Homo sapiens: one gene and its partners. The protein of the gene in region 3 interacts with the protein of the main gene of each other region in a pairwise test. Each region holds a gene or a part of one and is shown on either strand. Other genes may lie near its edges.

Evidence for each region.
Region 1: the proteins of TIAL1 (region 3) and AOC1 interact in binary tests that used the Homo sapiens proteins (3 or more experiments, as listed by UniProt).
Region 2: the proteins of TIAL1 (region 3) and CELF4 interact in binary tests that used the Homo sapiens proteins (3 or more experiments, as listed by UniProt).

The regions. Positions count from the first base shown.
Region 1 is NC_000007.14:150,846,217-150,857,096, reverse strand, and holds the start of AOC1 (diamine oxidase [copper-containing] isoform 2 precursor), read right to left. Parts: upstream 4,581-10,880; 5' UTR 4,539-4,580; intron 2,994-4,538; exon of another isoform or gene 2,934-2,993; intron 643-2,933; 5' UTR 627-642; coding exon 1-626. UniProt on the Homo sapiens protein: Catalyzes the oxidative deamination of primary amines to the corresponding aldehydes with the concomitant production of hydrogen peroxide and ammonia.
Region 2 is NC_000018.10:37,560,933-37,571,916, forward strand, and holds the start of CELF4 (CUGBP Elav-like family member 4), read right to left. Parts: upstream 4,867-10,984; 5' UTR 4,710-4,866; coding exon 4,424-4,709; intron 1-4,423. UniProt on the Homo sapiens protein: RNA-binding protein implicated in the regulation of pre-mRNA alternative splicing. Mediates exon inclusion and/or exclusion in pre-mRNA that are subject to tissue-specific and developmentally regulated alternative splicing.
Region 3 is NC_000010.11:119,584,804-119,595,100, reverse strand, and holds part of TIAL1 (nucleolysin TIAR), read left to right. Parts: intron 1-1,011; exon of another isoform or gene 1,012-1,101; intron 1,102-1,581; exon of another isoform or gene 1,582-1,649; intron 1,650-2,983; exon of another isoform or gene 2,984-3,125; intron 3,126-6,852; coding exon 6,853-6,949; intron 6,950-10,297. UniProt on the Homo sapiens protein: RNA-binding protein involved in alternative pre-RNA splicing and in cytoplasmic stress granules formation. Shows a preference for uridine-rich RNAs.

The DNA of each region.
Region 1 (10,880 bases), on a different chromosome or scaffold from region 3:
CCTTCTACATAGCGCTGTATGATAAGCCAACTGCGGCGCTGGCCAGAAGCCACACCCCGGGGGGCCACATCGGTGAAGGCCAGGCATCTGTCATGGCAGTCTTGGAATGAGAAGCCTGTGGTATTGAGGAAGAACTGATGCAGGGGCTTGGTGGCTTCCTGCAGGGTGTGGTAGAGGAGGGCATACTCTGCTGTGGAGATGGGCCTCGATGCCCAGGAGGACTGGTACCCAGGCCTGGGGGACAGTGCTCGCATGTAGCAGGGCCCTGGCAGGGGCCCCACAGCAAACTCGGTGACATTGGGATGCTCCTGGTCACCAAAGAAGATGACGGCACGGGCTTCCCGCACAGGATGCCTTTCACCTTTATCCAGAAACCTCAGCACATGGTACTTCTTGGGCAGCAGCATCTCGATGAGAAACACGGTGTTCTTGGCCATGGTGGTGGTACTGGAGGGCTGCAGCCTCAGCTCCTTCTTGGACCAGAGGAAGCTGTGCACTGCCTTCAGCTCTTGGTTGCTTAGGTCTGAAAACACCCCTGCCTTCCTGGGCAGAGTCCCCGGGGAGGGCTCCGCCATGGCCGTCTGCAGCATCAGGATGGCAGCCACGGCCCAGCCCAGGGCCGGCATCTCTCGCTCCACGGCTCTGGAATGCAATAGAGGAGATGAACTTAGTTGTCTTATGGGCAGAGATGGGCTTCCCTCAGGTTAGGGCCATGGAATTTTCCCATGGACTGAGCTTCCTCCCCTTGCCCTGCCCCAAGCTGGAGGCTGTCCTGGGGCAGCTGGGGCCCCATGCATAGTCCCCAGCGCCGTCGGGCCGCTGCCTGTGCATCCATCCATTTATTTCTGCCCTCTCCTCACTCCTCTGTAAATGTCCTTCAGTCCTGCAGCCTTCCTTACTCAGGGGAACACCCTTGTTTTTGTGTATTATCTCAGCCAGGGGTGCCGTGAGTCACAGAGGCCAGGCTGGGCCCCTGCACATGCCCCCAGGTGCTTCTTGTGTCCTGGAGAAGAAGACACCTGTATTAACAGCAAAACTACATTTCTGACACAACGAAATACCTTTTAGGTAGACAGATTTTGAAATTTAGTGTAGAAATTCAAAGGTAGGCTCTAGAGTCAGGCTGTCTGAGTCAAGTCCCAGTGACTCATGCCACTAGGACTTGCTGTGTGGCCTTGGGCACGCTGCTTAAACTCTCTGGGCCTTCATGTTCTTAGTTTTAAAATGAAAATAATGACAACAGTGCTTAGCTCCTAGGGTTGTGGAGAGAAATCAATTAAACAGTAAATATAAAGTGTTTGTAACAATGTCTGCCATATGGGAAATACATGAGAAATGTTAGCTGCTCTTCTTGTTAAATACAGGCTATCGACACCAGCCCATTTAAAGTTTTACGCAATGTAGAGTGATTCAGGTGTGACTAGGCTGCAGACTGATGGCTTTGGGGGTGAGGTAGAGGTGCCCAGTCCTGCCTAGCCTTCTTTGTGCCCCATTCACCTCTCTTGTCCACCCAAGGCTACTAGGAGGGGACCTCAGGGAGGGTTTCATCTTAGGAAGATGCCTTTTCCTTTCTCAGGGAGGGTGGGTCAGGGTCTTCACCTCATAACCCCATTCCCCAAGCAGCTGTAAAATCCTGTGCTTGTAGCTGTGAGCCTCCTGCAGGGCTGGGAGACGTGGTGGCCACAGCTCTGTCTTCCCATGTGCTGTGTGCGGAGTCTCTGGGAGACTGTTACTCTTGCCTGTTGCGCTGTTGCTACAGATGCTGGCTGGAGCTGTCTCCCAGCCTTAGTTTCTCCAGACCCTAACTTGTCCTCCTAGGTGATGTGGGCCTCCCTGGAAGGCTGCCGTCACCGTGAAATTTCCCTACAGAAGCACTGCCTTTGCCACCTTGCACCCCCTTCCTCAAGGCTCTGGGTTGAGCTGGGAGCCCCGCTTCAGGATTCCTCCCTGTCTCAGCTGTGCTTTTCACTTCCTGCAAGCAGTGCCTGAGGCACAGACACTTGATTTATAAGGTGGATGCATGAGTGGGTTGGACTCTGAGAGATCCTTGTTTTCATATTTTCATAGGTAGTTGCCTTTTGCTCCCTAAATCAGAAGCCCTGGGGGTAAACCTGGAGAAAACTCGTTCTCCTGTGCAGACAGACAGGTAGCAGAGAGGGTTAATCCACTCCTGTCTCAGACCTCTGCCTGGCCCAGCCTCTTCCCAGGGGGCCCAGGCTGCCTGCAAGGGAGGCCCCGAGGATTTCACCTGGAAAGTCGGCGGCACAGGGTGTGAGGTGTAACTGAGGTGCAGCAGCTCCACTTTGGGTGTATCGTGGAGTGACCCACTGAGGAAACCTGACCATCATGAGCGCTTTTCATTTCTTGCTTTTGTTTTTGGAAAATGCATTTACACATCACATTTCCGAAGCACAAGCGTTGGGAACACAACCCATGTGTTAACTAGAGGCCCTGTTTTCCCGTGGCTTTTTTCCTCCAGAGAAGCTCAGCTGCACATTGTCCCTTCCCACCCGACTCTGGGCCAGTGTCACATCCTTTGCCACCTTTTGAGGTCAGCTGAAACCCCGCACTGCCGAGGAATGCTGTTTTTGGCCCCAACTAACATACTTCTCCACTAGTCCCCTTAGCACTTTGTATTTAATTTGTACACGATGGGCAGTTCTTGATTCATAGACAAATGAAAGGTGTTGGCTGGGCCTGTTCCATCACCCGAGGGCTCTCTAGCCCTGGAGGCCACGGTAAAGGCTGATCTGAGATGTCCTTCTCTCCCTTTCCCATGCCCCTCTCCCCGAGGGCTCTCCCCTTGCCCTCGTTTTGCTCCATGGTCATGGCCTCTCATGGGGATGTCCCTCTAGTTGCCTTGTCTTGCCCTCTGGTGCTGGCAGAAGACCCTGGAACCCACATGATCTTGGGCTCTCGGAGGCCCTGCTTACCTGGAGGGAGCAGGTGAGGCAGGGGCTGCAGGCGGAACCCAGAGCCAGCAGGAAGGATATGAGGTGAGTTCTTGTGTTCTCCTATTAAATATTGGCCAGGCCTCTTTTTTTTCTTCTTTAAATAGACTATTTTTTCTTTTTCCTGAGACAGTCTTGCTCTGTAGCCCAGGCTGGAGTGCAGTGATGCGATCTTGGCTCACTGCTACCTCTGCCTCCCAGGTTCAAGCAATTCTCCTGCCTCAGCCTCTGGAATAGTTGGGATTACAGGTGTGCACCACCATGCCCGGCTAATTTTTTGTTTTTAGTAGAGATGGTGTTTCACCGTGTTGGTCAGGCTGGTCTTGAATTCCTGACCTCAAGTGGTCCACCTGCCTCAGCCTCCCAAAGTGCTGGGATTACAGGCATGAGCCACCAGGCCTGGCCCCAAATAGACTTCTTATTAGACTTAAATAAATAAATAAATAAATATATATATATATATATATATATATATATATATATAGTCAGGATCTCACTATGTTGCCCAGGCTGGTCTTGAACTCCTGGGCTCAAGTGATCCTCCTGCGTTGGCCTCCCAAAGTGCTGGGATTATAGTAGACTTTTTTTTTAATAGACTTTTAAAAATAGACTTTAATAGATTTCTTAATAGACTTTATAAAGTCTGTTAAAAGTCTTTAAAAAGTCTATTAAAAGTCTTTTAACAAACTTTATAAAGTCTATTAAAGTCTTTTAAATAGGAGTCTTTTAAAGAGGAATTTTAGGTTCATAGCAAAATTGAGCGAAAGGTACTGAGAGTTTCTGTATACTCACAGCCCCTACACACGCAGCCTCCCCACTATCAATATCCACACCAGAGCCATACATTTGTGGCTGATGAACCTGCACATCACTCTCACCCAGAGCCCACAGTTTACATCAGGACTCACTCTTGCTGCTGCATATTCTATGGGTTGGACAAACGGACAATGACATGGATCCACCATTAGAATATCACACAGAATAGTTCCACCTCCCCCAAAATCTTCTGTGCTCCACCTCTTCCTCCGAAACCCTAGCAATCACTGCTCTTTTTATTGTCTCCATAGTTTTGCCTTTTCCAGAACGTCCTGTATTTGGAATCTTACAGTCTGCAGCCTTTTCAGATTGGCTTCTTTTGCTTGGCAGTGTGCATTTAGGGTACCTCCATGTCCTTTCACGGCTGGGTCTCCTTTTTTACAACCTCTTATACCCACGTTTCTTTTTGCTTTTCCAGGAAGGAGAAAGATGTGGAAGAGACCTTTGCTTTCCCCAGGACAAACCTCTGTCCCCATGTGCAGTGGCAGTGGGGGTGGTGGCTGGTGAGACCTCCAGGCAGGAACAGGAAGCAAGCCCTCTCCCTGCTCACCCTCCTCTCTGAGCTTTCCCCACTCCACCCTGGCCGGCTGTTGCCTGCCACCAAGCACCCGGGCACCTTCTGTGATGTGCTGGGCTCCCGCCCTCACTTCCTGGCCCTCCTCCCTCTGTGTCCTGTTTCTTCTGCCCCTCACTCTGTGCCCTCCTTCCACTGCTTTTCTGTCCTCCAGGTCAGCCCCTTCTTGACTCTCCCGAATACCCATCAGAACGCACCTGTGTGCTCTGCTCCCAGTTCGCTCTGCTTCCAGCCTTTGCCCTTAAGCTGATCTCTGACTCCTTCTTGAAGTCAATCAGACCCCGCCCTGCAGGGAGGGACAAGGTGAGGCCTGAGCTGGCCTAGGAGGGGCCTATGGCTTGGGAGGTGCCTCTGTGGGCAGCTACAGTGGCGAGAGTGGGTTTGAGGAAGCTGGCTGTGCAGCACACTTGTCCTGAGTCTGTTTCCAGACAAGTGCCGCCTTCCACAAGAATTTGCCTTGGCTTCTCTGTGACGAGCCATGCAATGCCACGATCTGTTAATTTAGGTGGCATATTTTAGAGGCAGAGATAAGGACAAGGGGCCATTTCCTAGCCGGTAGTCTTACCTGAAGCTGACAGATGGACCAGGGCAGGGGCTGATAGAGGCTGGCACCCACAGCAAAACAGAGAATTCAACCGCTCCTAGAACAAGACACCAGAGGCAGAACCGTTTGGGAGGAGCAGCCACTCAAGACGAGTTGCAAACTTTGGCGGCTTTTTAACGATCTTTGAGACCCTGACCAGATTCAGAAAGGAGGAAGGACTTGGCTGGGAGAAAGCTGGCCAGGGTAGCTAAGGCTATGGCACAGAGCGGAGAGGGGAGAGGACACTGGGGCAGGTAGTGCCCATGCAGTGGGCGGACAGTGCTAACGCCCACTTAGTCAGGTTGAGAAGGGCGAACGTGGTGACCGGGGTAACTCCTAGTTGGAAAGGAAAGAATAGAGTCAGGAAAAGTTCGTGGCTCAGGAGTGCCAAGGGGTCATCATCCCCCATTACCAAGGTTTGGTTGCTCAGGGATTGCACACCGCTTTGTGGTTATAGGGGTTTTGTATTTCTCATCATCATCCTTCCTGCTGCCCGCAATGCAAGCCATTTCAGTGTGCACTGGCAGCTAGATGAAGGAAGGTGAACACACTTAGTCAACTTGAAGCTTGCTTGCAATTCCAGAAGGTCTTTGGTGTTTCTGAGGAAGGGGATTTGCCTTCCATGTTAAAATGATGATTGATACAAAGACAATGAATGCTAACGTCTTTCACCCTCAGTGTTCAAGAGGACTGTGAGTTATGTATTCTCAGTTATGGGCTCACCAACTCCGCAGAGAATTGGGGGGATTTGGATTAGAAGAGAGTTTCAGGAACAACCTGATTTTGAGGACTACAATCTGTTTCCATTCCACAAAGGAAACTGCGACAAAGTTAATGGAGTGAGGATGGATCGAGAAAAGAGACTTGCAAAGATTTAAAGGGAAAGGGGCCACATGCACATGATGGAGTTAGACCCTTTCACACACGGAAACGGACTCGAAAGGGACCAAAGACATACATGTAAGAGCTAAAACTGTAAAACTCTTAAAAAGAAAACATAGGAGTAAATCTGCTTGACTTTACATCTAATTCTTGGATGTGACCTCAAAGCACAAATAACCAAAGAAAAAAAAATAGATAAATTGACATCATCAGTATTAAAAGACTTTTATGCTTCAAAGGACACCCACAGGAAAATGAAAAGACAAAGCATAGAATGGGAGAAAATATTCACAGATTATATATCTGATAAGAAAATTATATCTAGAATGTAAGAAGAACTCTTCCAATTCCATAATAAGAGGCAAATAATCCAATTAAAAATGAGCCAAAGATCTGAATAGATATTCCCCTCACGAAGATACACAAATGGCCAATATGCACATGGAAAGCTGTTCAATGTCATTAGTCATCAGGGGATGCAAATCAAAACCACCAGGAGATACCACTTTATATCCACTAGGATGGCTAGAATTCAAAAGCAAGGTAATAACAGGTGGGGCCAGGAGGCAGAGAAACTGGAAGCCTCACAGGCAGTTCATGGTGAGATGACGCAGCCACTTCGGAAAACTGTCTGGCTGTTCCTCAAATGACTTAACGTTGTTATCATATAACCCAGCAATCCCACTCCTGGGTATATGCTCAAGAGAAAGGAAAGCCTATGTCCATGGGGAAACCTGTACCAGAGTGTTTACTGCAGTGTTATTCACAATAGCCAAACAGTGGAGACGACTCATATGTCTCTGCATTGATAAATGAGTCAACAAAATGTGGTCTATCCACTCAATGGAACATCATTCAGTCATAAAAAGGAAGGAATCACTGTTACATGACACAATGTGGATGAACCTTAAAACCACTACGGCAAATGAAAGAAGCCAGTCACAAAAGACCACATTATTCCATTTATATGAAACGTGTGGGGTAGGTAAATCTCTCAAGCAGATGAGAAGCACATTAGTGGTTGCTTAGGGCTGGGGTGCGATGGAGGGATGGGGTGAGAGCTAATGCTTATGGGGTTTCTTTTTGAGGTGATTAAAAAGTTCTAAAATTGAAGGTGATGGCTGCATGTACCTGTGAATGTACTAAAATGCATTGAATTATACACTTTAAATGGGTGAATTGTAAGGTGTGTCTCAATAAAGCTGTTTTCAAAAAGTGACAGGACTAATATCTAGAATACACAAGGAGCTCTTGCAAATCGGTCAGAAAGAGGCAGCAGTCCCCATGGAAACCTGGTAAAGAATCCCAAGGGTAACTTGCAGAAGAGGCACCCCAAAGGGCTAAAGAGCACATGGAAAGATGCTCAAATGTAGTGGTTACTAGAAAAATGCAAAGCATTCAACAACGAGATATAATTTTTCATGGGAAAGCTGGATGATGCCAAGTGTTGACAGAGATGTGGGGAAACGGGGACCTTATGTGTGGTTGTGGGAAGGGGTTATTGATGGCACAGCCATTCTGGAGGGCACTTTGCAGGGTGTGGGCAAATGAGAGAATTGCATGCTCTCCAGACTCAGGAACTCTGTCTCTTGGAATATATGTCAAAGAGGTTCTCACCCAGGCCTAGAGGTGGGATGCAGACACAAGTGGCTGTGAGGCTGGGGAGCTGGAGGCCATCGGGGTGCCACCCCCAGGAGAGTGGTCACTGCACACCATGGGGTGTTGTGCAGTTGGCGGGTGCAAAGGCATGGATGTCCACACAGCCACTCCTGAGAAGGGATCTCAGGATCATGGAAGACGCAGGATGAGTGATAGCACGATGCCATTACACAACAGGAAACACGTACACACCAAGCCACCCGCTTTCAAGAGTGGATACACATTAGAATGGATGTGAGGGCGGGGGTGGGAGTGGGAATACATACATACACACGTGAGAAAGACAAGAGAGAGGACTTGTATGGGCCAGTGATGACGACATCCATGCACTGAGGTAGAATTAATTCAGTTCTGCAATGGACGTCCATAAATAAATAAAAGAAAGGCCTGGGAGACAGACTGAGTGACTACAGGTCCTCACACCAGGGTAGATGTGGCTGAGGACAGGAACCACCACAGGTCCCGCACCTGGAGGATGCAGTGAGGGCAGGGAGGAACACTGCGTGTAGGCAGGGAGCTGAAGCACACCAGAAAGAATTGCATTTTTTATGTAACGGGGCCCATAACATGTACATAGAAGGATTAATATTACAAGGTGGCACAGAGTAAGTGCAACACATTGATGCCCAAGGGCCTGTCCTGCAAGGGCTTGGAAGGAGATTCCCCTCAAGACTGCAAGCCCCCAAGTCCTGGGACTCTATCCCCTCTGCAGTAGCCTCCATGGCTGCTGTCACAGAGGACCACACACAGGGGCTTAAAGTAACAGAAATGGGTTGTCTCACAGTTCTGGAGGCCTAAAGTGTGAAATCAAGGTGTAGGCAGGGCCATGCTCCCTTTGGAGGCTCAAGAAGAGGGTCCTTCCTCTCCTCTTCCAGCTTCTGTGTTGCCAGCAATCCTTGGTGTCCCTCAGTGCCTTGGCTTGTGGCCATGTCACTCCAATCTCTGTCCTCACATGGCGTCCTCCTTGTCTCAGTACCTCTATTTTCAAGAACACCAGTGATTGTATTGAGGGCCTACCCTACTCCAGTATGACATCATCCTAACTAATTCATCTGCAACGACCCTATTTCCAAATAAGACCATATTCTGAGGTTCCAGGGAGGACATGAATTTTTAGGGGGATGCTATGCAACCCAGCACACCTTCTTTACCTGCCTCATTGCAGAGAGCATGGTCCTTGGCCAGTGAGTGAATTCCAAGCCCTGTGCCCTGGGGGGCTGCTGCCCCGAGGATCCACAAGGTAGAGCCTGTGTGGGGTTTTGCGATACACGAGGGACTTAGGAGGAAGAGGACACACTGGGCAGGGGCGGGGGTGGGAGTGGGAGTGTGAGTGGGGGTAGGAGCAGAGTCCTGAACTGAGATGTGGTGTGTTTCCCAACATGGGAAAAGGTCAGGGCTGATGCGGGGAGTGGGGTGCGGTTTGTGTCGCTGTGCTGAGGAAGGGCAGGTGGTGTGTCTGGAAGGAGGAGGTAGAGTGAGGAACCTCCCTATGCGCTTCTAGAGAAGTGTGGGGGTGAAGAGGGGCTTGTGGGAATCCTATAGAGACAGAGGAGATAGAGAAGCCCTCTAGAGAGGCACTGGGAAAGCTGAGGCGAACAGAATCCTTGTGCAGAAAAGCTGGTAAGTCTGTTGTTATATACATATATATATTTGTAGAGACGGGGTCATGCTGTGTTGCCCACGCTGGTCTTGAACTCCTGGCCTCAAGTGATCCTCCTGCCTTGGCCTCCCAGAGTGCCGGGATTACAGGCATGAGTGACCATGTCTGGCCAAGGCCATTGTTTCTGCTCATGTTTGTGTGCACTGTGGCTGGGGAACTTGAGATGTCACACTTGAAATTTGGGGTCTGTTGCCTTGCCACCTCTCTTCCTGCTCCCTGGCTGGGGCTGGCCCCTCCATACTGAAGGTGACCTTGGTTTCTGAGGTGTGGTTCCTCGCTTGTGGAATTAATGATTGCTGACAGTTAGAGATAGCACTTGGGCAAAGACCGTATCCTGTCAGTTGTTCGCTGCTTGCCTTTCTTAAGGAGGTCCAGGCCTAAGGAGGGGCAGCGCTATATACAAAGGTGGAGCTAGGAAGCCAGAGGTCACAGCTCACCATGTCCTGTGGCTAAATCTTGATATTTTGCTTTCAGAAAGTCACAACCTGTCAGAGCTAATTTGAGAGGATCTAGAGAGTGGGATTGTTTCCACGAAACCACAGAGAAGAAACAGAGCAACCCGCGCCTGCACCAGGACCTACTGGGGGTACACCAGGGAAGCTCATTCGATTAGATCTTTATGTGAATGAAGCCAACATCATAGCTTTTGTCCCTGATTAGGGAAGGTGGGTTTGTAAAAAAGAAAATTCCACCATTTTCTGAGGCAGGGCCATTGGTCATAAGGGGCCCTGGTGAGGTCCTGATGGCTTGGGCAGCCCCACCCAGAGAGGGGAGAACGTTCATCTCCAGGTGCTAGCCCTGCTTCTGCCACTGGCTGGTGGGCTTATACTTGACAGTCCTTAATTCATTCAACAAATGTTTATGGAGCACTCATTCTGCACCAGGGAGACACAGCAACGAACAAACAAAACCAAAGCCTCTATGGGGCTCATATTTTAGTGAAGACTATCCAACAGCGAAGCTTGTGAGCCTTCACAGCAGACCTCCTCACTGGGACAGCTGATGACAGGGGCTGGCCCTGGGCTGGCATCTGGGAACTTAACTTTCAGGATCCTGCCCCGCTGTGCCGGCCTGCTGACTGTTTTTACAGACAATGTGATTAGTGAACACCTGCTTTCCTATTGGGAATCTGGAATCTTGTTAGTTGTGGTGGGCAGAGAGTGTGCCTACGTGACCAGCCCCAACCTCTGCCCCAGCTCTGAGCTTCTACTTCCCTGGGGAGATGCAGGGCGCAGGGTATGCTCTGTGCAGCCTTCATGGGAGGGAGAGCTCAGCGAGTCTGTGCCCTGACCCCTCCAGACCCCGCTGTGTCCTTGCTGTGTGTTGGCCGTGGGTATAACTGTCTGCTTAGTCTGGTGAGTCCTAGTGAAGCTCTGACAGCAGAGGTGCCATGAGGTGTCACGGGTGTTCAGAGAGGTGTCCTGCAGGCGTTGGCGGCAAGTGGTGACCCAGTGTGTTCCAGTGGGGCACATGCTCAGGGGAAAACAGAGCAGGGGCATGTGGTGGGGGCAGGGCCTGACCTTTCAGAAAGGGGACTCCTCTTCTCCTCAATGTGGTGAAGGAGTGGGCCACAAGGATGCCTGGTGGCGGGGGCATTTCAGGCTGAAGGAGCAAGGAATGCAAAGTCCCTGATGCAGAGTGAGGGGACTGCTGTCGCCAGGGGCAAGTGGTGGCAGGTGGATTCAGAGAGTGACCAAACGCCCTCGCCTCCAAGGCTGTCACTGGGATTTTACTCTGAGCCACTTGGGAAGCCTC
Region 2 (10,984 bases), on a different chromosome or scaffold from region 3:
CAAAACATATTCATATCCCCGTCCTTCCTCTTTCACACAGCTAAACCCCAAATCAAGGGGCTTTAGGCATTTCCTATTCAGGTATAGTTGAAATAGAAGATTGTGCATGTGGTGGTGAGTATATTTTAAAATGATACACTCTCTGGAGCTAAATCCACAGAAGATTCTATTGCTCTGTCCCCACACTTCTGGATGTAGTGTGGAAGTATGAGGGGCTGAAATCCCTGCAGCTGTGGCTCCTGGGCTGAGAGTCCCCCAGGCTGCCGGTAAAGTAGATTTTCCTCCATGTAGCTGAGAAAATCTCAAAGCAGAGTGGTTACCCAGGCACAGATCTGTTCTGACTGGATAACAAGAGGGACTATGATGTGGACTTGGCCGTTTAGATTAAAATGCATCGTAGGCTCTGGGAACAAGCACACATCAGTAGTAAAGGCTGTTTAAACCTTTGGGGACAGCCTTATGTTTAGATTACGTTAATTCATAAATATTATACTAAATACCACTTAAATTGGACTTAAATGACTTCAAAGATAATGCATTATAATATGGCTATCCAGAGAGCACTAGTCTTTATATCTCCCAGTAACTCAGTCTTTGCTGCCTCCCATCCAGCTAGACAGGACCAAAGTTATGAATGGATTGCTGATTTCTTCATGTGTGATCCACTGTTTATGTGAGTGTTAACAAGCATGGGTATGTGTACATATATGTGTCTTCAGACACTGCCTCTTTTTGTTCTACAGGAAATGAAAAGAAGAAAAGAGAAACAAATTAAAAATGAGAGAAAGGAAGAATTGGACTACTGGGTGACCTGTTCCCTTCTCCAGGGTAGAAAAATTCTACAAAAAGGGGTAAAATTGGCCCTCAGCTCATTTCTGCTGCTACCCGAGGAATTCATCTCTTTTCTCTTTAATCAATAGTACAATGTCTTTCTCTTTGGAGCCTGGAAAAACAATCTTTCCCAAAGTGCTCTAATAGGGGAGAAAAGAAGACTCTGAGTTGGTCAGGAGAGTTTGCACTAAACTCGGTTTTCTTCCTTGGGTGTTGTTTCTTTGAATTTTAATTCTGGGCTTTTTTCTTCCTTTCTCTCTCTGCCTAGCACCCAGATACCCCTCTCCCCAATTGCTTTCTGGCCTCCAGGGGGTAAATTTACCTTTACAGTAATCACCCCAGTCCACAACTGCTCTTTGCTGCCTCCCCAGCCCAACAGCCTTTCTCTGATATGGCTGGGTTTGCTCCACAACACCCACCCACTCCCTCCTCCACAGACTCCCAATTTGACTGGAGTAATTGCCTTTTAAGGTGCACTCTACGCATGGCAGGTATTCCATTAACCCTTAGAACTCCTTCCTTCTTTAGATATCTGAAATGGCAGGTGGCCAACAAATGGAGACCCACCTGAAACCTCCTGTGTTTAATTTAGTTTTTACTTCTTTTCCTTTTCCTTTTTTTTTTTTTGCCACTAACATAAACATGACATCCAAACTGGAGGCCAGTGTCCTGTGTCTCTCAATTTGATCCTGTATGATTCATTAGAAGTTAGAAATTAAGGAAGGGGAGAGCAAGAGGCACAAATATGCCCTGAAACCAGGCTTAACAAAGGCATGATTCTATCCCTAACCTTATGTTGTCAATTTAGAGATGGGGAAATCTAGAAACCAAATGCAACACTCATTCCTCAAGCCTCATCATGCTTTCTGACTTAACAGTAATTAATCACCAATGGCAAGCGAGTAATTTTTTAAGGTGGCCGGAGGCTTATTTTATCAGGATTAGCTAATAAATCAGGCTCCATCACCGAAGAAGGAGTTTAAACTCTTCTAGGACTGAATAAACCAGACCTCGGAAACGGTCTCATTTATTCAGCTCTCTGAGAGCTTGCAAGCACTGTTAGGGACATTGTGGTCCAACCTCGATTATAAAAATCAGAAGGATGGAGAGGTAGGAAGTTTCACTGGGAAAAATATATGCTCAGGCTCTGAAGGGTGAGCTGCGACAACGAGGAACCCAGTATGCCGGAGCTAGTGGGCCTGCTTGCCACTGACTGAGACAGTTTAGGGGAGAAATTATTTAGAAAATGAAGTTTTGTTTGTCCTAGGAATTCTGGCCAGATTTTATATATCGATATCTATATCTATATATAAAATATATGTAATATATGTATTACGTATATATTATATATATAATCATAACCTTCTCTACCTCCCTAATGCAAATGATGAAAATTCTACTTCTTTGCTATTATATGAGAGAGTCCAAATTACATCAGCAACAAAGTGATGATATCAGGGATTGTAGAAAAGAAACCAAGGAATATTGTTAAAGTTTATCTTCATTTGAAATGAAGAAGCAAATAAAGTGCTTTAATCCAGATGCCATATGAAGCCCAGCTCCTCATAACTGTCTTTTGCCTCTAGTGAGTTCTGATTTTTTTAACTTTAAAATCTTAAATCACCATAAAAACTGATCATTAAGATGAGCAGAAGACTTCCCTACCTATGCTTTCAAAATTTTTATTATTACTATTTTTTACAATGAGGACATTCAGAATAACAAAGGTTTGATACAAACCTTGATTAGCTTCTAGGAAGCTTGATTGGAAGGGGAAAAACTACAAAGATATGGTTGACTTGAGAGGGAGGGGGGGAAAAAGAAAGTGTTTTCTTTTTTTCTTCGAATATTATTTTGAAGGCTGCCTCCCCGTTCCACCTTTCCAATCTCTCTTTTGAACAGACAGACATTTTCTCCATATTGGATAAAGGTTGCCTTCTCTCTCCATTACAGCCCCCACCCTCACCCCACCCCAACAAACCCAGTATATTTCCATTCTGCTGTGTTTTTGTGTTACTCAACATGCCATTAACTTTAAGATTTACTCCTCAGCAGGCAAGCTGGAAGATACTAAAGCCAATAAAAACTGCTCTCTGGGACTCCAACTATGAAGAGTTTGGAGCTCTGTTTAGTATTCGAACGAAGGGAGGGCTGGAGAAAGAGGGTGGTTGTGATAGTGAAAATCGCTGCTGCTTAGAGAGCCAGACAGCTCTGCGCTCTGCACCTAATGTGCTGGAGGATCAGCTGTGTCCATAGCCCATTTGTGGCCAAGGATGAGGCTGCTCTCTATGTGGGGGTGGGTGTGCGTGTGTTTTCATCTTTAAAACCACCAGCTGTAACAGCATCTTCGGCGGCTCTCCACACTACTGTTTATTAAAAACGGAACATCCATACACATCCCCTACAACTTCCTTAGCCCCGTGCTCCTTCCCTGCCTGGCGATCAATCTCTCTCAGAAAGCATTTAACTTGCCCACATAGATCCAGCACCGATTCATTCCCGCTGCACATCCTATATATTACTGTTAGGAAGCGGAGCACTGGGCTAATTTCGTCACCCACCAGCCACCCACACACATTCTACAACTGAACACGTTTGGGGCTCTGCTTTAAAGATAATAAAACAAGGAGAAAACAGGCAGGCTGCGGACAATTCCCATGACCACTTTCCTAAAAAGTTGCTGTGTTTTAATTCTTTGATTATTCTGTCTCCCCCTCCCCCAAGCACTCACTGGCAATGATCGCTTCAAGGGAGAAATAATGTACTATAAAGCTCTCTGCATGGTGAGTTTGGGATAAATTAGGGTACACCTTTCAAAATGCAAATCTCGCACACACATATTTTTTTCCCAAAGCCCCGCTTTCCTGGGAAGGGGACTATCCAGGCTTGCCAGACCCCCCACTCCACCCAGGGGATGGCTGGTTCCTTGCTAATTCTTGCCTTAGGTTTTATCACTGGTTCCTTCAAACATCCAACCCCCCCACCCCCAACACACACCACCATTCACACCACAATCAGATTATTGAGGCACACAGCTCGACAGGGAGAGTTTACTGTTACATTTAAATAAAAATTTCTCTTTGAATTTGTCACCTCTCTCCCTTTTAGACGGCTGCGCTCCTGCTACTCTAGCCCGGAGCAAAGGATGAGGAGACCACCTCCTTTAGTATTTTCAGCACCACGGCGATGGACAGCACCCTCGGTCCTCGGCCGGCCAGGAGCCCGCGAGTCCGTCCGCTCAGCGTCCTGGGCTCGACCGGTGCAGCCTTCCCCATCCCCATCTTTCAGGTCGCTGTACCCAAAAATCCAAGCCCCGTCTCCTCGATCCCCTCTCTCTTTCTCTTCATCGGCGCCCGCTGCTCTCTCCATGGCATCGTTCCTATCAGCACCTCGCCCAAAACCCAGTCTTGCCCCAGCGAACAGCTCCCCACGCACCCCAGCTCTGGTCTCCGCTGCCCGAGCGCCTCCCTCCACCGCGCCCGCCCGAGGCTTCCTCTCGCTTAGTCCGCCGCTCGTCAGTCGCCGGCCGGCCGGTCGGCCCGCCAGCCCGCTCCTGCTCCCCGGCAAAGTTGGGAGGGAAAGGTGTACTCACCTTTGTGCATGCCTGTGAACCTGTCCTTCAGAACCGTAAGCTCGTAGATTTTGCCAAACTCCTCGAAGAGGGGCTTGAGGTCCTTCTCATCCAGGTTGCGGGGGATCTGCCCAATGAACAGCTTGATGGCATCGTGGTCCTTCATGGGAATGGTCGACGGGTTCCCCGGGCTGTGGCTTAATCCGTTCATGTGCCCGGCACTGCCCGGGCTGCTGCCGAGCCCGTTGGTACTGAGGCTTGCGTTGTCAGCCTGTCCGTTTGCTAACGTGGCCATCTTTATATACATAGAGAAAATCTTCTTTCCTTTTATTCTTTCTCGCTCACACTCTCTCGCTCCTCTCTCTCGCTCGCTCGCGCTCACACACGCACACGCATACACACACTCGGGTTCTCTCCCCCTCGGTTTCTCTACACCTCGCTCTCCGCTCGCTCTCTGCTCTCTCTCTTTCTCCTCTTCTCTCGCTCGCTCGCGCTCGCGCTCTCTCTCTGCTCTCCCCCCTCTCTCTCTCCCTCCCTCCCTCTCCTCTCTCTCTCCCTCTCTCTCTCCCTCTCTCTCTCCCTCTCTCCTCTCTCTCTCGGTCTGATCTGATTTTTTTTTTCTTTTTTTCTTTTTTTTTTTTTTTTTTTTTTTTTTACATTGAACAGACAGGATCTCTGTCCTTTCCGTTTAAACAGGCTGGACCGGTTCAAGTTCCCAGCCAGACCAGGGGTGGGGGTGGCGAGTGTGCGCGCGCGGAGGAGGGCGCGGGGGGCCGGGAATGGGCGCGCTGTGGGGGCCCGCGCCACGGCGGGCGGCGGCCGGGGGCAGGGCGGCGTGGGGCGGCGGCCACCGCGCCTCCCCCGTCGGCGGCCCCGCGCCGTGGCGATGGTACAGTCCGAGACGGCCCCCGGCTATAAATAGCGCCAGGCGCATGGCTCTTCGGGAGGCGCTGAGATTCCGGGCCCGGCGGCCGCGGGGAGCGGGTGTCCGTGAGGAGCCGGGCAGCCGGCCTCCTCTCTTTGCCTTTTGGGGGTTCTTTTTGTAATAGCAGCAGGTGCAACTTTTTGTATTTTAAAAATAGTGATTTTTATTTTCGTGTGGGTATGTAGGGGGGCTTTATCCACCAAGCTATGCTCTATTAGGGCGCCAGGCGGGCGAAGCAAAGGCAGGGATGGCGGGCGGGGCGGCGGCGGAGGTGGAATGGGCGCTTTTTTCTTCCATCTGGCTTTATTTATTTATTTAGACTAGAAAAGCGAGCCGGCTTGGAGGGAGTCCGCCCGGGGATCCGAGCGCGCATTCATCAGTGTCGAGAGAAAAAAAGCTACATAAATATATATTATGTGGATAAATCTATAGACAAGAGCTCTCTCGCGCGCGCTCTCTCCCTGTCTCTCTGTGTGTGTCTTTCTCTGTTTTTTTTTCCTCCTCGCACCCCCAACCTGCCAGAGCAGCCCCACATCTTCCTCCCGCCCGGCATCTACCGCCACCCAAGCCACCTGCCAGGATGGGGCTGGGAGCTGTCGGGCCGCGCCGGGGGGCAGAGGGACGGGGAGTAGAGACTCGGGGTCCGACCCCCGCCCCAACCCGCTTCCGAAGGCGGAAGGTGGGGGTCCCCGTCCCGGGCGGCCTCCCCCGCCCCGGAGAGCGCGGCTGGTCCCCCGGTGGCTGGCGGGAGGAAGGTAGGAGTCGGGCGCCCCTGCCCGCTCGCCCGCCGGAGGGGGAGGAAGGCGCTGGGCGCGGTGGCCGGTGAGCCAGCGCGGGGGATGGCTTGATTTGCCCTCGTCTGCTTTACGGGTTCAAATAGAATATATTTTTTTAATCACCATCAAAAGAATAAAGCCCCTGAATCGCTATCTGGGTTGCCGCCGGACCGAGACTCGCGCGGCGTGCGCTGCCCCCGCGGGTTTCGTTTTCGGCACCTACAGCTCCCGAGGTGCGAGGCTGAGTCGTTCCTGCCGTGGGGACCGGGGGTCGAGCCGCCCGGTCCGGACCCCGCCGGACTCCCCGCCAGGCCCACTGGGGCTGGCATCTCGGCTGCGCGGGAAAGGGAGTGGCAGGCGCGGAGCCGGGAGCAGGGTCCGAGCGGCCCCGCCTGTAGGGGTGAATACTGGTGGTGAACTTGGCTGGGGTAGCAGATTTTCACGTTAATGATATTTACCTGCACCCCGTCCTCTCTCATGTTTGCTTTTTCAGGGCAGCCTCTTCGCTTCAGAAGCCTGGCAAATTGAAATAACGCGCCCGCTCCCCCGCGGGCTGCGGGGCTGGGGAGCTGGGGCGGCGGGGCTGAGCGGCTGGCCTAACCCCCGCCGGCCCTCGGCTAGCCACTTTCGGGTTTCAGGGTTTCTCTTTTCTTGCCCTCGGATTACATTACGTTACTAGAGGATATGTCTGCAATTTTAATTAAAGAAATGAGACCCCAGCTGCCTGCAAACCCAGGCCAACCCCATTTGGTACAAGCACAATACGGAGCTCTCCAGCGCCGGAGGAGGCCCGGAGGCCCGAGGTTCGCAGCCCCAGGCCCCGAGTCCGCTCAGGACGCCTCTCTCTGAGGATCCCGGGCCCAAACCAAAGAGCAAGTATGATTTTTAGAACTGTGGAACTTCATCCTTTCATTTTAGCTTCTCCTGCCTTTGCTTGCCGGAATCGGGTGTAAGTATGGTTAATTCGTCACTTGGTTTACCGGGTTTACGTTATCCGGTGTTGTATGCTGGTCTAAGAATCGACCAAGTAGATGACTCGAACAGAAACTCACATATAGAGCCTTTGCCATGTGGTGGTTGTGTATTTGGTGTGCCTTTGAAGTGCCCTGATAAGGGGGGCAAGTCCCTGCTAAGCACTTGGAGAGTTTGTGTGTGTGGTTTGGCCGTGTGTGCCTGCTTGTGTGGATGCAGCGTGGGTCTCTGCACGGACCCTGCGTGTATCCACACTGCATATATGTGTGTGTCCATACCAGGTTGAGACCTCCTCCTTCTGGTCCCCTAGGACACATCAGCAGTGGCTATTAACTCTGTCCAAGATATCTCTTCCAACATCATCCTGTGGTGCTGGTGCATGGCACCCAGGATCCTACAGCTGAGTGGCATGTATTTTCTGCTATCACAGGGGAGTTTAGGAGAGTAAATTCCTGCTCGAGGTCTGTTTTTCTCTCCTTGCCTCTCAACCCCTGAAAGCAAAGCCCGGACATCGGAAAGGGAAAGGGGCCAGCTAAGGGCAGCTGGAAAAGAAGGGAACTGCTCAGGGGAGAGTCACTGAAGTTCACCCTCCTCTTCCTGCCACCACCCAAGGCACCCCTAGGTCCAAGTAAATTATTCACAGGGGGTTAATTACTCATGTTATTATTAATAATAGTCAATACATAAATAATAGCAATCGTTGGGCAGGAGTGAGCCAGGGAGTGGGCTTGTTAATGAAAGGGGGCACTGGCTATTTCAGATGCCATGAAGACTCCTCCATTCTGTGCAGTGCCAGTTCCCTCCAGGACTGCTCCCCTGCCCTGTGCACCACGGCCCCTCCTGGTGTCTCTTCATCCGTGGACTCAAAGCTGTGGAGAGCTGCTCCTTCCTTAGAGATCCCCACCCTCCCCCTTCTCCCACCTGATGATGGCTTATTTTGGATTTGGGTTATCTCACCTTAGCAGGTGGCACAACCCTTACCTCTCATCTTTCTGACAGATATATGGCGAAATGTCCTCCCTCCCAGCTCCTGCCCCAGGACACTAAGTCCTGTCTAACTGAGCTACCCAGTGTAAACAGCAGCAGAAGCAGCTTCTGTTTAGGCATCAGTCTCTTAAAGGTGCAGATCTGGATCTCTTAGGCTCCTACCTCTCCTCCATAGCAGAGTGTTGGGGATAAAATAACACAGACAGGTGTCTCAGACTAATGCAATAAAAGAGCAGGACCCTTGAGAAAATAGTATGAAACATGATTAGGTTGGCTCTTTGGTATCCTCACCCTTGATATTCTAGGAAGACTTGAGTTAAAATTTTTTTTAACCTTAGATCATCAAAGAGAAATGTAATTAGAGAAAGATGGGCAAAGTATTACTCACTGTGACATTTAAGCAGATTTAACTTTCCCTCCAAGTGCCACTTCATGGCCACAATTATTTCACCCACTGAGAGAGAGGGAGAAGGCTAGCAAATGGAAGTGGGGCTGGGAACAATTGCTTCTCATTTTCTCTCTGGGCTTGGTGTTTATATGTTGTTGCTGATTCATCTTTGGGGGTGTTAGAAAGTCCTGTGGGGGATTAGGTTCAGGTGGGCTAGCTACTCAGGCCTTGCCAATACCTCCTGTTCCTTCGCTTCCCTTTGCTTCTCTCGTTCCTCAAGGAGGGGAGGGAGCCCTCACTGGGCTCAGCTTCCCTCCAGCTGAGCCACTTGTCACTGGTCACCCTCTTCTCTCTGACACCCACTGAACTAGCAGCCCTGGCCATGGCCGCACAACCTCAGGCCTGCTTTGGCTCTCCTGCCTGTAAATCTTCTCTTTCCCCCTCAATTGTGAACTCATGGAGGGCAAGGACCCAGTAATCTGGTCTCTCCTCCTCCTCTGCAACCCCTTCTGGTAGCACAGTAGGTGCTTAAGATATAGTTTGTAGATACCGGTGGCTAATCTGACTTGGGGAGTGGTGTCAACACTATATTCATATGGGCTCTAAGGAAGGGGAGCTGCAGGGCCCCAGGCGGACACTTTTGAACAGGTAATTTAGAAGACCCGCAGCAGTTCAGCATCCTGGGTCTGCACTGCTTTACTTGGAAGCATCACCACTCAGTCATTCTTGCATTCATCCAGTCTTTCTGACCTCCCTCTGGAAGCAGCCAAGAAAGGACAAGGCTGCAAAGATCTCACCGTCTAGTTAGACCAAAGTCATACCCAGTGAAAAGCCCCAGAACAGCAAATGGCAACAGATGGTTAAATGTCTTCCAGGCCTGAGGAGTTCCACATAGGAGAAAATAGAAAACAATCCAAGTTGCCTGTGATGATCTGTGATGGGGGTAGTAGCCTTAAGGAAAGAGGCAGTGAAGAAGGCAGGATGCAGAGGGGGCCAGATTGGTGGTACGCTGGGTGATGCTGGGGATTTAAAACTGGAAGGGAGAAAAGCAGGGATTACTCCAAGGTTATGTTGAGACCATGCTGAAAACAGAGCTGAGATATACACTGGGCTCCCTAACAGACCAGACCTCAAATTAAACATCTCTATGGAGCGACTGCTCTGCCCAGACCTGCAGAGGGCAGTGAGGGCAGGCTGGAGGAACGGAGACTCCCCTGTACTCTGTATAGGGCTCATGTGCTGTTTGGGCAAAGAAACGGACTCAAAGAGCCAAATGGCCACAAAGGGTATGATCCAACTGAAGGGCAAAGTGAAAGGAGCAGGCTGTGTGGGCTACGGACCCCCAGAGAAGGTGGAGCTTGTGTGGGCAGTGGCACTCAGGGAAGGCCTTCTGGAGGAGCAGGCCCTGCTGGCCCTGTAGGAAGGGGTGTTTCAGCTCAGGAAGAGGGGAGAGAGGTGGCCTTCAGGTTGAAGTGGTGTTTGGAGTTGCAAGGCCTGGAGTGAGGAGTGGGCTCTGAGTTCTTGCATGACACACAGAAGGAGGAGGCTCCCATGTGGTTATCAGTTTGGTAGGCAAGATGGGGCTTTGCAGGCAGCCTCAGCAGTATGGTCTTCTCCACAAACCCAGTGTGTCTCTGACCTGGAATACTTCAGGAAAGTTCAGTGATATAAAGAACAATAATTGGGGCAAGAAAGGAAGAGAAAAACAATCCCTACTGCCTTTTAGCTAATATTGGCAGCCTCCTGCTACTCAAGTAGACAATTGAAGGACCTCCTGTCCTGTTGTGAGCCCACAGCAGGTCTGGGCATGAAGGAAACCCACTGGAGGGAGAACGCTGTGTGTTTGGGAAACCCAGGGGCTCCCTAGAAGGACTGAGCTGTCTCCAGGTCTCAGACAGGTGCCAGGGCTGGCAGAAGAGGGGTCTCAGAGCTGTTTTTTCTTGCTGGCTGAGCCTCAGGGCCATACTGCCTCGGTCTTGTGAGGGGAGCCCTGGCTCTGGCAGGGAATGGTTTTGGGAGTCCGTGGTCAGCTCCTGTTCCAGGCTTTCATGCTAACCCTGGGGGTTCGCCTCACTTGTGCTGAGGACAGGTAGGAAATGTAGAGGCAGTGTGAGAGGCGGAATGAAGGGACCCCAGAGTCCCAGACAGGGGCATCCTGTGTGATGTGGCCAGGAGAGCCAGAACTCAGCAGTGGGGACCTGACTCATCACTCTCCTGGGCGTCAGCTTTCTCTTCTATCAAGTGGAGACTGGGGTCCCTTTCTTCCACCTTCCTTTCCTTCCTCATATCACATCCAAAAAAGATGAGACAGTGGCACGTCTGTGAGGCTGACTAATCAGTTTTCATGTAAAAATTATTAAGGTGACAAGAGTGGGGATTGAGGGTCTAAATGGGCTATAAAAGAATGTAGATAAATTTGATGAACTTAATTGCACTGAGGGGTTAGGAGTTTACTCCTTATCTTCCCCAAAGAATTGACTTTTTTTTTTTTTAAAGGGCAGTGCTCCATCCAGCACAAGCATGTGGTTTTAGCT
Region 3 (10,297 bases):
CTCTAACGTCTCACTGAAGTATCCGTCCCGTTTTGAGAATCTGAGGCCTACTGAAGCACATCCAATGCTTCAATGAAACGCCTGCTTAATAGAACGTCTTTGTGTTTTGTGTTGTCTTCCATTTCTGCCTTCTCTCCCTAGAAGAAAGAATTGGGACACACTTGAAATTTGTCCTTCAGGCCGGGCGCAGTGGCTCACGCCTGTAATCCCAGCACTTTGGGAGGCCGAGGTGGGCGGATCACGAGGTCAAGAGATCGAGACCTTCCTGGCCAACACGGTGAAACTCCGTCTCTACAAAAAACACAAAAATTAGCTGGGCGTGGTGGCGCGCGCCTGTAGTCCCTGCTACTTGGGAGGCTGAGGCAGGAGAATCACTTGAACCCAGGAGGCAGAGGTTGCAGTGAGCCGAGATTGCACCACTGCACTCCAGACTGGTGACAGAGCGAGAGTTCGTCTAAACAATTAAAAAAAAAATTTTATCCTTCAACATCTGTTGAAGCCAAGACTTGGTGTTGAGTTACAATGTGTACTTTGATATAAGCATCTGGGAAAGCTAGGCTTAAAGACTAGCTAACATGTATTTAACAAAGATAAAAGTTACATTGTATCTAAAAATCTGAAGTATCATCACACACTGAATGATTGATAAATACTCATGGCAGGGGTCTCATTTACTGTATCTGTTCCTTACCAAGAGGAATCTCTGGTTTTGTAGTGCTAAAGAATGTGCTTTTTTGATGTCTTTTATTTATCTTTGCATCTGCCTTGCCTTCATCCCTATCAGAGTTTCTCCAGGGGAATAATAAGCTAACTTCTTTGTCACTTATTTCCTTCCTCTACCTTCTCTAATCTCTTGTTCTTTCTTTGAAACAGTTAAGTTGTCTATGTTTACAGTTCTCTAAAACTGTGACATGTTCATATGAATAAATAAACATCTTAACTCTGTTGTTTTGTATGTCAGTACGTGTTTACTATTCTGTCTTCCTTTTTCCTTCTCCCACCCTTTTCCATAGGGCCTTTTTTTTTTTTTAAGAGAAGGACTACTACATCTTCCTAGGTCTTACCCCCACAGCACTTAGTTCACTGCCTGGAACATAAGAGGTACTCAGAATTTCTACAGTGATTATACTTCTTTCATTAAATTAGTATTAAGTTCTTTTTTAAAAGTCCTGGTTGAACTAAGATTGTAGGCAGACATTACTGTCACATGTGGTGCAGTCTGTTGACTTTTATATATTTTTTAAAACCTTCAAATGTAAAATCTTGAGATAAAAGCAAATGTTTAACAATTGGGATTTTTATTAGAGTTTAATACAAATAATGCATAGTTTTTCTAAGTGTACGTTTTACATATTCTCAAAGGGTTCTATTAGATATAAGTAACATGATGAAAACTGAACATGATTTTAGACGTTGATATCTAGTAGGGTTTTTTGTTTATGGAGATCTTATATTTTACATTGTGAGCTATGGATTAGGTTTTTCAAGTGGCCAGTATGTTTTAAAAGAATGTGTTCTTAACAAAGCTTATCTTAAATTGTTTCCTTAAGATGCCTGTGTGTTACTAGTGAGGTTTTTTTCCTGCAGACACACACAAGCTAAGACATATGGTTCTATCTTCAGAAAACAATATGGTGTTTAGAGCCTAGGTAGGTCTTTAAATATTCATTACCTACAGTATTACTAATTTATTTGATGGTATTTAAAGTGGCAAGAATTGCTTTGATGTTGAGCCTAAATTTCTATTTGTCATATAGTTGCTTTAAAGGTCTGTTTTCTGATGTTCTTCATTCTCATTTGACATTTATTTTGGGGTATTATGCATTGAGTAACTTGTGATCTAAAAAAACAAACAAGATCATGCTGTGTAATACTGGTGTTGGAACTGGACTGTCTGACACCTGCCTTGTGGGACACACATTTCAGGCTTGGGTTGTGTGTATCTTTGTAGTGCAGTGATTTGATCCATGGTATATCTGAATCTACAATATGACACTAAATTGTAATAGTGTTTTATTGTAGCTTATTTTATTTTCTTCATCTATCGGATGCACCAAAATTGCTAGGAATTCGTGTAATACCATGTTACACAATCCCTTCCTTTAAGGCTATTCTTTCTTCCTGGAAATAAGCTAATGATTTAGAGTATAATCTGAACATCTAAGAACAAAGCAGAAGAAAATTCTATAAACTATTACAAAATTGACTGGCTATACCATGGATTTGGCTATACTGTGGCTATAATCAAGCCCCTCATTCAAATTCAACTTAATCATATTCTTTGTTTCTTTAAAGTAAGAGAGAGAGAGTGAGTGTGTGTGTGTGTGTGTGTGTGTGAGAATATCTCATATATATAGTTGGTCAATTTAGTTGTACCTCCTGCAGCTATCTTCCATCATGCCTCCTTCCTAAAATGAAATACTGTACCGACAAATTGAACAATTAATTAGAGATCTATTGAAGGATATTATTGCAAAATCTCTTCTTGTATAGGACTTGTCAAGAACAAAAGCAAAACTATTATGGAAATTTAGCTATAGTTTTTTGTGTGAAAGTGCTGATAATTTCAGCCTTGGTAGGGCTACTCTTTTCAGAGTGAGAGCACATTCAGTGTTGAAAAAGTGTCATTAGTCTTCTGAAAGGCATGATATTCTTAACTTAAAATTCTGCCCAGTCGGACACAGGAAGTAGTTTGGCAATGTGAATTTCTGCCTACTGTGAAACTGCTAAGTTTTTAGCCCCAAATTGGATTTTAACCCTGATATTAGAGATAAAGGTGTCATTTTCAGTTTTTAATGCTTCAGTTCCTACAGTTCCTGTTCTTAGAAGACAAAATAGACTCTAAGGTATGCCTCTTCTGAATTTTTTCGTTGAGTTAAAAATCATTTTGGAATTTCCTAAGTGTTTACTCTTTGAATTGACCTCTCAATACAAAAATTAGAGCCATTTATCTTTTTTCTGTTATTTTGTGTATGTTCTTTAGGTAGCAATTATATATTTAAAGACTTGGATCTTTAGCTTGACTATTTCATAACCAGAGCAGAAAGAAAGTGAAGTGTAGAAGCTATAATTTGGAACGAATAAAGATGTCATTTCAATGAACTACCAAGAGATGATCTTACTAGGTCAGGCATTGAACTTTGTCTTAAATATTTTTGTTAGTATTTACTTTGGGACAGATTATTTTATGATACTGTAAAAGTACTTAAAATAGAATAGTACAGTATTTTAAAAGCTATACAATACGTCTCTCAAGTGTTATGATGCACGAAGGCAAATGTAAATGAAGAGGCAATCTGAAATTTGGGTACAAGAACTCAGTAAAAGAAAAGGCAGTCTGAAATTTGGGTAAAGTTTAGGTGAAATTATATAGTGAATCATGGCCTTTTAATCCTGGTAAATTAAGATATTGTATGTGTTGTTATGGAAGGCCTTTCATGTTAGTTTTTGAAATTTAGTTTGCTGCTTAACATTTAACTTTTAGTGGAGATAATTTGAAAAATAGGAAACCTTAATACTGGATTTTTAAATAAATATTTCATGACATTCTAAACTTAGATATTAACGTTTTCATCTTTGCTTTCAGTGCTAGAAATGTAAATTAATATATCTAAATATGCCTCTAGAAATTCTTCAAGATCTGTAACTGGCGGGAAATAGGTTGACTTAGAATAAAGATTTTTTTTTTTTTTTCAGATGGAGTTTCGCTCTTGTTGCCCAGGCTGGAGTGCCATGGCGCGATCTCAGCCCACTGCAACCTCCACCTCCCGGGTTCAAGTGATTCTCCTGCCTCAGCCTCCCCCAAGTAGCTGGGATTACAGGTGCCCGCCACCATGCCTGGCTAATTTTTTGTGTTTTTAGTAGAGACGGGGTTTCACCATGTTGGCCAGGCTGGTCTTGAACTCCTGACCTCAAGTGATCCACCTGCCTCGGCTTCCCAGAGTGTTAGGATTACAGGTGTGAGCCACCACACCTGGTGGAATAAAGATCTTATTAAGCAGTGACGGCTTTTTTTGTGACTATTAGATATAGAAGGTAACTAATTCCAATACAGTTTTTCCTGAAGAAATTGATGTTTAAACAGTAATGGAAATTTAAAACTATTTAAATCATTTAAAATGTGTTATATTAAAATGATAATTCTATTTTAATTTTGTTATTAGCTAGCTTCAATATGTGAAAACCAGTTTTATCCATCCTTCTTTTCTCTTAGAAGTGAGCTAACTAGCCCTTTAGGCAAGGAGCATAATGTTTAGAAGCTCAAGATCACTTGTTCGTTTCTTTCTTTCTTTCTTTCTTTCTTTCTTTCTTTCTTTCTTTCTTTCTTTCTTTCTTTCTCTCTTTCTCTCTGTCTCTCTCTCTTTCTCTCTTTCTTTTTTATTTATTTTTTTGAGATGGAGTCTCACTCTGTCGCCCAGGTTGGAGTGCAATGGTGCAATCTCGGCTCACTGCAACCTCTGCCTCCCAGGTTCAAGCGATTCTCCTGCCTCGGCCTCCCGAGTAGCTGGGATTATAGGTGCGCGCCACCATGCCCGGCTAATTTTTGTATTTTTTGTGGAGACAGGGTTTCACCATGTTGGTCAGGCTGGTCTCAAACTCCTGACCTCATGATCCGCCTGCCATAGCCTCCCAAAGTGCTGGGATTACAGGCGTGAGCCACCATGCCTGGTCACTTGTTCATTTTTCTTACAGATAGGTCTACTCTGTACAAAAAGAAATCATTTCAGAGATACAGGCTCACAAACCCCTATGAGTTAAGAAGGGGCAAGCAGCCTATCGCTGGCTCATAACCCAATAACCTTTTAGTCCTGCTGGAAAAAGTATGTCACTACATTGGCCTGCTGATGGATCAGCTCCTTAATTACGTGGAAAAGGTGGCATAGTGGACGTAAAACAGTTTGTCACTTGTTTAGTCCTCTAGTTAGGTAATATTGGATGTGTGTTTCAATTTTAGAGCAGGTACACTAAGATTATTAGTACTCATTGCAATAAAATTCTTAACTGGAAAATCGCTACTAATTCTTAATTGGATCTTTTAAGTTTTTTACTTAACCTAAGCTTTCTCAGTCTATTTTTCCCTTTGAGTATTCCATCTTAAAGCATGTTGTGTATTTAATGTGGCAGCTATGTTGCAAGTCTTATTTTGGTCTTAATACTCAGTTTCCAGATGTAATATATTACAAGTAGAAAAAGAAATCTACTTTCCAGAATGAACTTTGTTAAATTTTACAGATATTGTTTGGTTTATGAGGTTGTTCATAACAGATGCAAATTTGAGGAATTATGTGTAGAATACCAGAAAGACTTTAGTGTTTGGCAATTTATTTAGATAAATTAAGATAAATCCATAGTACAAGACATAAACCAAGGTGGTCCTCTCTGTGTGATGAAGTAGCATTTTTTTCTTTTCTTTTTTAAACTTTCCTGTATTTAAAATCTTTTACACAAAACACATTCAATTGTAATTAGGAAAAAAAACCCAAATTTTTAAGTGTCCATAGTCAAAAGTATGCCTGGATTTGTCTTAGTTTTTCTCTGAATTTCTTAAGAAATCTTTGTATTAGCTTTTTTATCTACATTAAGATATATTTTGTTGGCTGGGCATGGTGGCTCACTCCTGTAATCCCAGCACTTTGGGAGACTCAGGCAGGTGGATCACTTGAGGTTAGGAGTTTGAGACCAGCCAGGCCAACATGGTGAAACCCCGTCTCTACTAAAAATACAAAAATTAGCCGGGCGTGGTGGTGCACGCCTGTAGTCCCAGCTACCTGGGAGGCTGAGGCAGGAGAATCGCTTGAACCTGGGAGGCGGAGGTTGCAGTGAGCTGAGATCATGCCACTGCACTCCAGCCTGGGTGACAGAGTGAGACTCCATCTCAAAAAAATACATATATATTTTGTTGATTCTGATGCATTTTAGACTAGGAAATTTTATATTTTACCCTGCTCTCCTAAAATGAAACAGTGAAGACATCATTGCAAACAACCTTACTCAGCCAAAAACAAAACAACAAAAACCCTCCACCCTCTGTATGTTTTACTATAACTTTAATTCTGTTCTTTGTTCATGTAATTGCTTTGGTTGGGAATCTAAGATAAACTCACTTTATGTTTAATATCCTATTACAATCAGATGTTTTAATGAATTAGTATTTGTTGTATGTGTGTGTGTGTTATAAATTATTTTTAATTAGAAATTGTAGTTATCTTGAGACCAGTTTAAAATTTTAACAATTAGAATAAGATGAGAAAATGATATCCAGGGTACAGAATAATAATGCCATTGGGGTATACAAGATCACATTGATTTGTTCTTTAAATGTCTTTCAGAGTGGTATTTTAGTGGCCTAAGAACAATTGTTGCTTTCCTAAATAAGGGTTAATCTTACTTTCATAGGATCAGGTTTAATTGGAGAAATTTTGTTGAAAACAGAGGAAGTTAAAATGAAATAAAAGGTGGCCGGGCGCAGTGGCTCACGCTTGTAATTCCAGCACTTTGGGAGGCCAAGGCGGACAGATCACCTGAGGTCAGGAGTTCAAGACCAGCCTGACCAATACGATGAAACCCTGTCTCTACTAAGAATACAAAAATTAGCCAGGCATGGTGGCATGCGCCTGTAATCCCAGCTACTTGGGAGGCTGAGACAGGAAAATCGTTTGAATCTGGGAGGCGGAAGTTGCAGTGAGCTGAGATCATGCCATTGCACTCCAGCCTGGGCAACAAGAGCAAAACTCCATCTAAAAAAAAAAGAAAGAAAGAAAGAAAGAAAGAAAAGGTGATGAATTAGATGATAACACATTAGAGCCAGAGCTAAAGGAAAAATTGCTGATAACGTATTTTTTTCTTGTGCAGATACGTAGGTAACCTTTCCAGAGATGTGACAGAAGTCCTTATACTTCAGTTGTTCAGTCAGATTGGACCCTGTAAAAGCTGTAAAATGATAACAGAGGTAAGATCTTCCCAGTTCCATGTGCTGACAATTAGCATGATGGGTTGATTAGCATGATTTTAAAATTTCATTGTAAGCCTCAAGTTATTCTGGTGGAGAGATTTGTGTTGTGTTGACTTATTACTTTGATTTGGCTGACAAACTAGGCTTAGAATGGAGTTTTATTTAAGAGGGCAAAGTTTCCGTGCTGTTAAGCTCAAACGGTCATTCTTCATGGTGTGGTTATCTTGAAGTGATTCTGCTTTCAGAACATTATTAGAGCTCATTTCAGAATGGTGAAAAATTGGAAAGTATTTCATACAATTCCAATAAGAATGTTAACGATTTAGACAGCATGTGTTCATGTGCGAGAACACGAAGTTATTATGTGTGTAGTGTGCAGCACCGTTCGTCTCGTGTGTCTGTAGCAAATACTTACCTTTTTATACTTTCCTGCTAAGACTGTAGCAGCACCCAATTAGTCATGTTTTAGGCTTTTCTTCCTTGTGTTTTTGTTCATTGATCAGCTTTCTTTTTTTTTTTTGGACTATTTCCTATGTACTAGATACTGCAGTAAGTGCTAGAGATACACTGGTGAATAAAGATAGTTCCTTGGCCCAGAGAATTTTACAGTTTAGTAGGGAGACAAAGGAGTTAGCAGGCACTTAGGAAGTAGGATAATAAATGCTCTAGAAGCAGACAACTTAAAGTGCTGTGGGAGCAAATGTGTATCCAGTGCAGCCTTAGGTCAGTGAGCGGCTTCTTGGAGGACTCACTGCCTAGGCGGAAACCTTGAAAGGATAGTAGTACATACTGGCTAGAAAGGAATTGAGGGAAGAAGGGATTCCAAATAAAGGGAACTTTGATCCAGGTTGGTAGGGAGAGCAGGAGTGCTTGAGACAGAGAGGGAAAAATAGAACCCGTAGCATGGTTGTAGTTAAAATGGAATTAGTCGTAAGAGATGGCAGGAGTTTATGGAAAGGGCTAGAAACTGTGCTAAAGAGTTTGTTTTATCCTGAAACGGAGAACTGTTAAAAACCTTTAAAGTGCATTGGCCTTTTGATTGTCTTTCCCAAGTAATGACAATCATCATTTTGTTCTGGTGTATTATATTTTTCCTTCCTGCCTTTAATTATTTATTTGTGCTTTCATCGATCAAAAATTTCCTTTGCACTAGGCACTATACAAGGTACTGGAGATATAATGGAGAGACAGCCAAATGAGTTTCCCAAGCAAATAGGGATGTAAGCCATGAAGAGAATAAAACAGAGTTCTGTGATGATTGGAGGGTTGGTGCTATATAGGCTAGGTGATGAGAGATGTCACCTCTTTGAGCTGAGATGAATAACAAGATGGTGCTATCTATGGTAAGAGCTGGAGGCAGAGGAAACAGCAAATACAAGTCTTGAGTTGGTAATGAACTTGTGTTTGTGGAATCAAAGACCGATGGCTAGAGTCTGGTGAGGGATGGAGGGGAGTTAAGGGAAATGAGTCTAACAGCAGGATTCAGAATCACAGGACATTATGGTCCATGACATAGTTTAGGTTTTACTCTGATTGCTGTGGCAGACCAGTGGAGGGGCTTAAGCAGGGGGATGAGGTGCCAAGATTTGCATATTTAAGCTTACTACTCTATGTAGAGAATGACTGTTTTATGGAGAATAGATTGTAGCGGGCAAGAGCAGAAGGAGAAAAACCATCTGGATTTACTTCACTAGTCTAGGTAAGAGATGATGGAGGCTTATTCTCGAAAGTGCTAGCCGAAGTCAAGATAAGGACAGAGGTTGATAGATTTGGAATATATTTTGGAGGTAGAATTGATAGGACTGGGTTGGCTGTGGGACATAGGGAAAGGAAGAAATCAGGAAATACCCTAAGATTCATGTTAATGCAGTTGTATAGTTGGTAATGCTATTTATTTGCTAAAGTGGGGGTGACCTGATGGATGTCACCATGGGGAGTGGTGGGAATCAGAAATTGTGTTTTGGATGTTAGATTTAAGACATGAATTAGACATCAAAGTGGACGTTAGATTAGGCAGTTGGATAAAGTAGTTTGCAACTCTAGAGAGACCGGTGCTGAAGCTTGCAGTGGTATTTGAATCCATGAAGCCATGGGACTAGATGAGTTCACAGAGAGAGAATGATGGTAAAGAAGAGCACAGAGGCCGTGAGGTCTGAGCCCTGGACAAGCTCAACATTTAGAGTTTGAGTAAGGGAAGAAAGATCCTACAGTGAGGAAACAGGAAAACCAGAGTGTGGTAGGAGACAGAAGAGAATGTTTAAAGGAGGATGGTGGTCAACTGTAGTGAATTCTGCTTGGAAGTAAAGATTAGGATGGAAAAGGAATCACAGAAGCAGCAGAGAGGTCATTGTTGAGCTCAACATGCAGTTTCAGTGGCATGGTTAGCTTGGAAGCTGACAGAAGTAGGTTTAGGAGAGAACGGGTTGTGAGAAAGTGGGGAAAGACTCACTAGAAAATTTTTGAGAAACATTTGTAAAGATTTATTTTAACTATTTTTTAAAACCCCATGTATACATACAGCTATTTGAAGGGTAGAGGGACTCGAAATGAATTTTCATAACATCCATATTCTAGAACTCCTAGATTTGAGCTTGTAAAGTCTCATATTTCTCTGTCTTGACATTTATGTCATCCAACAAAAATTGGTGACAACGCTAAATAAGGTAGGGACATAACGGATTTTTTTTTTTTTTTTTTAAGAGACAGGGTCTGACTCTGTCCTCCAGGCTGGAGTGCAGTGGCGCCATCATGGCTCACTGCAGCCTCCACCTCCTGGGTTCAAGTGATCCTCCCACCTCAGTCTCCCAAGTAGCTGGGACAGCACCGCCACACCTAGTTCATTTTTAAATGTGTTTGTAGAGATTGGTTTCACCATGTTACCAATGGTCCCGAACTTCTGGCTGGTCCTAAACTCCTAGGCTCAAGTGATCCTCCTGCCTCTGCCTCATCCTCCTAAAGTGCTGAGATTATAGGCATGAGACACTGCACCCAGCCATAATTGATTTTTTTTTTTTTTTTTTTTTTTTGAGATGGAATCTTGCTCTTTTGCCCAGGCTGGAGTGCAATGGCATGATCTCGGCTCACTGCAGCCTTGGCCTCCTGGGTTCAAGTGATTCTCCTGCCTCAGCCTCCCAAGTAGCTGGGACTACAGGTGCGTGCCATCATGCCCAGCTAATATTTTTTATTTTTTTATTTTTTGTATTTTTAATAGAGACAAGGTTTCACCATATTAGCCAGGATGGTCTTGATCTTCTGACCTCGTGAACCGCCCACCTCGCCCTCCCAAAGTGCTTGGGTTACAGGCGTGAGCACTTTTTTTTGAGACAGAGTCTGGCTCTGTTGCCC